Regions from separate parts of the Homo sapiens genome. Here region 2 is reported to be linked to region 1. Evidence: microRNA targets listed by miRTarBase, many of them from high-throughput screens and not tested one by one. Region 1 holds a microRNA gene; the other region holds the end of a gene's coding sequence.

Region 1 (4,256 bases):
TTGACCTCCTAGTGTCTCGCTTCCCCCTCTATCAAATGCAGGCAGCACTGACATTTCATTCTGCTAACCTTTCACCACAGCGGGATAAAGTGGAGAGTGGAGGGCAGCGAAAGGAATACCACTGGGGTATTTAAAAGTGATGAGGGCTCTCTGGCACTAGACAGAACAAGCCCCCAGATGCTGAGAAGCCATGAGGAATCCAGACCTCCACCAGGGTTCAATCCCAGTCCAGGTGGGGTGTGGAGATGGGGCAGCCAAGGATGAGGCATGGCAGGACCTCTCTGTTGGGATGACAGGGGCCTGAGTGGGACTGGGGACCAGCACCCAGAGGTAAGGAGCCCGGTTTGAGTTTGACTCTGAGTCCCAGCTACTTCTTGTCCCTATGGAAAGCTTCTCATTGCAGCTGTGGGGGAGAAGTTTCTATCTCAAGCCAACTGCCTACCCAAGGACAGTTCTTGTAGGTGGTGACCAGTCTGGGACAAGAAGCCACACGCACACATACCTGCAAGCAAGTGGGTGTGAGGGCGGGGAGCCTCAGCTAACTTGCAGCATCCCCTCCTCCCCATCCTCCAAAACCCCTCTCTGTTCTGGCTCCAAGGAAGAAACTAGAATGTCAGAAAAACTCGCAAGACAAGCTCCTGTGATTTCAGCCTCTCCCTCAGCACAGGAAGGGGAGCAAGAGGGGCCGTGCTGGTGAGGGCCATGAGTCAGACGTGGCCCATCTGGGGCACTGACCCGCCCCTGTCTACAGGCTGGATCCCAGGAAGGACGCAAATGCAGAACAGTGCCACCAGCCGGACAGCCTCAGCATCACACTCTGCATCCACCTGCCCAGGTCTAAGGGAAGGAGGGGATCCTCTAAGGAGCCACCTCCAGTCTGTGGACAGCTGGCAGCTGGGCCAGAAACTTCCAGGGGCTTCAACTCTACTGCAGGGCTGGCATCCCCAATCATCTCAGGAGCCTCAGTGGGTGAAGGTGAGGCAGAGAGGGCAAAACAAACTCTCTGGATCGCCAGGACACAAAGTCCCTTGTGCATCCCCTTCCCCCGGCCCCTGCCAGCCCAGCCAGATAGGGAACTTCCCTTTCATAAATGACTCTGCCCAGTCAGAATCCTGTCTGCAGAGAGGAAGAGATCCAGCACAGGCCTCAATGCTCATCAGCCCTAAACGCAAATCCAAGTGCTGCCTCTTGGTGGCTGTGTGACCTTTACAAGTCACCTCATCTCTCTGAAATGCTGCTCTACCAAAGGGAATAAAATACGTACCTTGCGGGGTTGTTGCAAGGACTAGATGAGCTCATGCAGGTAAATAAAGACTCAGCTCAAGGGCTGGCTAAGAGCTCAAAACACAACTGTTGCCAACGGCATCCGCACGCATCCTCTCCTGTGCCTTTCACGTTTGCCCACACTCCCCACCCGTGGCTTTATGGCTGCAGTCCGGGGGACCCAGAGGCAAGACTTAACAGGGACACCCACAGTGACCCCCCTGCTTGCACTCCCGCCCCCTGCCCCCACGGGCCAGGCATACCTGATGGGCTGGAGGTGGGGCTGGACACTCGGGGTGACCCTGGTGGAGCCCTGGGAAGGAGAGAAGAGAAGCAGCATTATGCAGGGGTGGGCAGGATGGCAGGAGGAGCACACCAGAGAGCTGTCCACGGGGGCAAACATGATCCTCTTCTTTCCTTGCCAACATTCTGGCCCTGCCACCCTAACCCCTGCAAAAACACAGCCTGCCCGAAGCCAAAGCCATCAACACTGATTCCACGTGAGTGTGCCTGCCTGTGTGCAAGCCCCAGAGGGACAAAAGGAAGAATCCCGAATGCTGAGGAGTGCACCCCACTGGGCTGGTGCCATCCACACTGAGGGCACACTCAACAGTTACTGAATCAATGGAAACACACTTCACTTTGATACACTCGCCAACACAAGAGAAACCCCAGGAGGAGAATACGACTGCCACCACAAAAGGAGCGATGAGAGTAATGGCGCCCCTCTGTCTTGCCACCATCACCCCACACTTCTCTGCTTGAAAGCTGTAACATCAAGTCATTCAATTGAGTTTAGAGACCAGAACAGGCAGGTGGAGCATGCAGGAACCAAGACGAGGCCTAAGACAGTGAGCCATGCTCCTGAGGGCCCACTCCCCACTGTCTGTGGCAGACAGTAACCATCTCACCCACTCCCCTTTTCACAGCTGTCGAGTGGTACAAACTTAAGCAAATGGGCCCAATCCATCCCAGGGCAGCAGGATGGCATGGCGGGTGTGAAAGCACAGGGTCAGAGGCCCACAGACCACAGAGTTTGGATTCCAGGATCCTGCTGGGCAGCCCTGCCAGTTACTTAACCCCTCTGAGCCTCTTGTAATGTCACATGTAAAATGGGACAACCTTCAGGCTGGCAGTGAGGATCCAAAGGAGTTATGCATATAAGGCACTTCGCATCATGCCTGGTATTTACCAGATGACAGCTGTTGTTTTTGTTGTTACTTTTGTATCAAGAAAAATGAAAAGGGTAGTTACAACCAAACATTCACCTCTATAGAAAACCAACACCCTGCATCGCCTCTACCCATCCTTCCAGTCACCTCACAGGATGCAGAATTGGGAAGGCCAGTTTCTAGATTCTCAGACCTCCTGAGCCCATTGACACCTTCCAAACACCCATGTGCCTCTCAGAAAATGGTCTTTTCCTACCGCCAAGTTGCAGCCTCTTCTTTAAAGAGACAGGACCACAATCTGCCAAGAAAGGAAGAAACTGAGGCACAGAATAACTTACCCTCAAGTCCCTGGGAAGTTGACGGCCAGGCAGGATTCACACTCCAACCTGGGGCTTGACCACGGGGTCTCCAAGAAGAGGAGCCCCTGCACCCCTCTCCTGGCTCCGCAGTGCCTACGAGGCAGGATAGGTGGGTTCCGAGGTCCAGCTCCCAGCTGAGCCCCAAGTTAGAGCAGCTCTGCTAAGAGGGGGACCCTCCATCCAGCTGTCCGGAAGAAGGCTCTGCCCAGAGTCCCAGCTGCCTCGGACCAATGAGCAGCTCCTCAGCAGTGAAGGAGGGAAGAGCCAAGTGGGGCTACTGGGGGGAAGTTTCTAAGTCTCACAGCTCTTCTGGCCCTGAGGACTCCAGTTTGCATGAGTCAAGCTTGGGGGTGGGGGGATTAGACAGGGGTGGAGCTGGGAGTCAACGAGTGACTGTGTTTGGTTTTCAAGACCCAAACCAGGCTGTTCCAAAACTGCCCCCTCAGAGGAACACAGAAACCCAACAGTTCACCCATCTCCATTTCACTGGTCCCTAATGAGGAGTCCCTGAATCTCCCCAGGCCCTAGGCCCTGCTCCAGGCCCCAGGGCCACCCTGCTATAAATAGCCCCTTGAGTTTCATCTGTTGCTGATCCGTAGCCACTTTTGGAGGAAGCCACCACAGCTGCTTTGAACAACTGGAAGCCACAACGGTAGCCAAGACGTGAGGTGTGGCCAGGAGCATGGGACCAGACCCAGGGAGCTGGAGAAAGACAATGGGCCATATTGATATGGGCTTGGCAGGGGGAACTGGGGAACCAAGGGGGGCCGGGAGCCTGCAAAGGTGCAGGGGTAAGCAGGACAAGCAGGACAGGAGACCTGGCTCCCCTTTCCCCACCGCCCTCTTCCAAACATTACAACACTCCACATTCCTCAGCCTCCCCACCCCAAAAAAAGCCAGTGAAGATAAATAAAAACTTGGCCCAAACAGAGTCTGGCCAGGCCGCCTCCAGAGGTGATAAGGCAAAGTCCAAGCCCGCTCTGCTCCACCGGGCGGGGAGGGGAGGGGAGGCATGGGGAGGAAGCCACCCTGGACAGTGACCCCAGTGCAGAGGATGGGGGACGAACAGCTGGGACTGTCATCCCCTGATGAATCACTGGGCTGCCCTCTCACTGACGGGGCTTCCTGTTTTCTGCAAAGTTTGGGGGCACGTGACCCTTGCTGGCGGACAGCAGACATGCACGGTGACACGTCTGAGTGTCGGTACACACAGACAGACAGAACTCAGAGAACAACAAATGGGCTGGGGCAGGGGCACGGCATGTCAGCAAACACACCCTACTGCTCCAGAAACACAGGTGACCTCACACGAGGCTAGAGATGGTGCCTTTGGAAGCATGCCTCATCACGTAGGCTTTTTACAAGCACAGTGGGAGTAACACAAGGCATCCGGTCATCCCTGGGCCTCCAATCTTCATGCTCATTCTCTCATTCAGCAAACATCCACCGAGTGCCACCAGCT
Region 2 (4,000 bases), not on the chromosome of region 1:
AGATGCAAGAAACAAGCCACACACATCATATACAAGATTCATTTTTAATGGATTTGATCGTCGGGTGCAAATTTGAGCATTATTTACAAGAGCTTTCTGTAGAGTTATTTCTGTTCAAATAAAACCAGACTCTCAAAATACAACATAAGCCTGAACCTACTTGATTTTTTTTTCTCCCTCTAGTTACCAAGGAATATCGTATCTCAGATGCATGGCCTACTATCACACTGGTCTTTAAAGAAAAAAAAAAATGCATGGCCACAGTTCCAGGCAGTTCCTGGTAGCTGGATTTAGTGGATTTATATATGACAGTACAGTACATCATCAGTTTCACCCACAGGGCAGAACTTGCCTCCATTCAGGCATCTCTTTACAACTGGCAGCAATGCAGCATTAAGGGTTTTTAGCCAGGACCTGCTGTTTGCAGTCCTGCCCCTTGTAGTGTTACTCTGGGTGTTGCACACTCCATGATTACTAGAAGACAAACACCTGAGGCATGCAATCTGCTTGGAGTGCATCTATTTACATGAAGCTGCTCACGGGAGCTGGTGATTCTTCCAGATATGGGTTTCGTAGGTTGGCAAAGAGTTATCACACCATCAGAGATTTTACCAATGGAAAGAGAGTAGCTGAAGATTATATTGCAATGTTATTGTGAAACATTTAACTTTCTTAAGTTTAAAGTGTACTATCTCCTGCAGCTCAATATAAACAACGATGTATTTCTTTGTAGCAGTATGTGGAGTCAGAATGGGTTTTCCAATCTGATTTAATCCCTGAGCAGCTATGTTAAAAGTTAACTTTTTAAAAAAGCCCAATAAAAAACTAAATACTGTATTAAAACTCTACCACAATGTTACAGGGATAAACTTATTTCTGTACAGAAACATTAAAGCTACTTAGAAGCTGTTTACATCCTTTGCCTCTCAGAAAAAAAATATACATTTCCGGAAACTGTTCAGGTACTTAAGCTGGACATAAATTACCCCAAGTTTTTTCTTTTTCTTTCTTTCTTTCTTTTTTTTTCTGAGACCGTCTCACACTGTCGGCCAGGCTGGAATGCAGTGGCGTGATCTTGGCTCACTACAAACTCTGCCTCCCAAGTTCAAGCAATTCTTGTGCCTCAGCCTCCCCGGTAGCTGGGATTACAGGCGTGTGCCACCATGCCCAGCTAAGTTTTCTATTTTTAGTAGAGACGGGGTTTTGCCATGTTGGCCAGGCTGGTCTTGAACTTCTCAAGCAATCCACCCACCTCAGCCTCCCATCCCAATGCTGGGATTACAGGCATGAGGTGATCCGCCCGCCTTGGCCTCCCAAAGTGCTGGGATTACAGGTGTGAGCCACTGCGCCCGGCCACCCCCCAATTTTTTTTTTTTTTTTTTTTTTTTTACCAGCACTATGAATGATTAAAAATACAATATTTTTCTTACTAAGTAGGACTAAACATTCTAATCCCCTACTGGAAAACAAAAAACAAAAAACAAAAACTGGAAAACTTTTCAGAAAGTCAGCAGTGGTAACAAGTCAGTAAGTGGAAGAACTGGTTCAAAGTTTAAGAATTCAGTAAGATAAGGTATATAGGAGCTGTCAGATCTTCTTTTGCCCACGTATAACCATTTCTGACAGACAGCCCTAAACACTAGCTGAGAGCTTGACTGCACAGGACCACGGCTAGTGTTGGAAATAAAGACTGAGCCGGACTTGACATACACAACTCCGGACAGATGGGACCCTGGAATGGGGCTGCTCCATCAGGCCACAGCTTCCAGAAAGAGAGCATCCATGATCTCTGAAGAGCCTCTTGGGCAGCTTGGCCCCTGGTTATAACTATGATTCATTCATTAAGAAATGACAAAACACCCCACAGATGTATTTGGACCAAGTAAGCACAATAAAAGAGCTAAATCACGGCTTCTTCTAGGGCAAAATATTATCTGGGGAAAGATTACTTGCTTCTGATAATTAAATAGCTAAGAGGAACCGTTAGTGCCTTTTCTCTGCTCAGAATATCAGAACAGGAACAGACTGTGGATATCCTCCAATTCCCTCTGACAATGAGGGTTAGAGAGAGGTGCCTAGCAGTTAGAAAGCAGCAAAGCCAGATTGTCCCAAGTCCCTACGAAGAAGGAAAAAATATCATAGAAAATTAATAAGATGCAAGAATAAGTGTTACAGCTCTAGCTCTTTTAGAATTTGTCCAGCAGGTCTTCTAGACTTCACTGAACTGCCCCCCACCCCCCCCGCCCACACACCAAAAAAGATACAAGAATGTAAGCCCAGATGTGGTGTGGTATCTGGCATAAGCCAATGTTCTCTGGGTTCTAGGTACCCCTCTCCCCTCCCCCACCCCCACCCCCTCTGACCAGGGGACTGCCCGAAAAGAAACAGCTGAAATGGTACACAGTCACTCCTCATGCCCGCATGTTCACTGGTGCCCAGTTAGAGAGAAAAATGGCAACTGTGTATGTGGGAGTCACCTACACACACAAAACACTGATAGGTCAGTTTCCCATGTCTACACGTGACAGGATTCAGAAGGTACAAATCAACCTTCACCCAGGAAGCTTACATGTCTCCTGAAAGCACTGACAGGGTCACGCACTGAGGACCAGGAGGCTCCTTTACTGGTCTCTGCTTGGAGACAGACACAGAGTGGTCCACCCTGAGACACAAGCGTTCAGTAGGGATCGCCATCCCAGGAGGTACGAGATAACAGCACCTCCCTCTGGAAACTTCTACAGAAGTCAGTTTTGTTTTCTATTTTAAAACTGCATTCAGAGAGACATTAAACAAGAACTAAGGGCAACATCCAAGCTCCGCAACCTCCTGTGGCCCTTCCAGAAAATCTCCCTCAGTCACAAGAACTTGGGATATTGCTGTACTTCACATCATATGGCAAGCAGTAACATTCAGCCTAACGGCTCCCAACTCACTGTACGTGTGTCGTGCGTGCTCCAGGCATAGTTCTGGGTACTTTCCATTCCTTTTCTCTAAACTTTATGAACCCAATTTTATAAGGATTATTATTATTACTCCCATTTGGCAGATGAGAAAACTGAGGCTCAGGTGTTAAATTAAGTCAAAGTCACCCAGTAAGAACCAAAAGCATAATTTTGAGGTTTCCAGGTACAAATGATATGTCCATGTCTATATGGTTCAGTCCCAGGAGTTGAGCAAAGATGCTTTCACGCTCCTGGAAGTCAGGCACCTTCAGCTGATTCCAAGGCTTCTCTAAGCGCCAACCTGGAAGCCTGCTGTAAGGACAACTGTAGTCCAAGCTCCCAGGGACCAGTGATTCTGGCGGCATCCTGGGGCGGCTCAGTTTCTGGCGGTTCTCAGCTTCCTCCTAAAGTACTCAGGGGCAGCCTCGTACAGCCACTGTGCATCTATGACGCAGAGGTCCCGCATGTAGCACTTGTTGGTGTAGAGCAGCTCAGTGTACACGACGCAGGCCGGCTTGCAGTGGAAGAGGACAGACGACGGGTGGATGGCCACTGGCTGGTGGGTGTCCGTGGTGGCATAGGTGCCATCTGGCTGAAGCTCGGCGGTGCTCATGAAGAGGCTGTGAGCCAGGCAGCGGCGGACACTCTCCACGTCTCCTCGGGATGATGCGATTGGCATTGACATCTGTTTCGGGAGAAAGCGAGGAATGGAGCCGACCCCACACGTAAACACTGGTCAGCACTACACAGCGTGTTGGGGCAACTGGACCCACTGGGGCAAAAGCAGCCCACATTGTGAGCCTAACGATGTGGATTCTGACATTCGGAGGTGGTCACCAAGGATCAGCAAGGTCAGGGGAAGAAGGCCCAGCTGGAGGAGCACGGACCAGAAACAGGGAAACTACCGCCTGTGAAGGTAGGGCTGGGAGGGAGGTGCTCACATTAGCCACCAGACCACAGGCAGGTTGGGTGACCCACCCCTCACCTAAATTCCATCAGGACGGCCCGGAAAGGAAAGGCCCTTCCCTCTCGCTTTGACCATCTCACCATCTCCTCAC

Evidence for each region. Region 1 holds the annotated microRNA hsa-miR-6809-3p (CUUCUCUUCUCUCCUUCCCAG, at 1,577-1,597, opposite strand). A microRNA usually pairs through its seed, bases 2 to 8, with sites in the 3' UTR of a target mRNA and lowers its output. Matches are read on the target gene's strand: a 7mer-m8 pairs with bases 2 to 8, a 7mer-A1 pairs with bases 2 to 7 and ends in A, and an 8mer does both.
Region 2: the mRNA of DHX33 is a reported target of hsa-miR-6809-3p. Seed matches in the 3' UTR shown: 7mer-A1 at 2,986-2,992 and 7mer-A1 at 1,993-1,999.

The regions. Positions count from the first base shown.
Region 1 is chr2:217,898,937-217,903,192 of GRCh38, forward strand. It overlaps MIR6809 (microRNA 6809), which reads right to left and starts at 1,692; the gene lies at 1,577-1,692. TNS1 (tensin 1) reads right to left here. Exons shown (of 33, transcript NM_001387777.1): 7 at 1,527-1,576.
Region 2 is chr17:5,440,887-5,444,886 of GRCh38, forward strand. DHX33 (DEAH-box helicase 33) reads right to left here. Exons shown (of 12, transcript NM_020162.4): 12 at 31-3,627. The coding sequence ends at 3,319. Among named protein-coding and RNA genes, the nearest start is that of C1QBP, 3.7 kb to the left of the region's middle.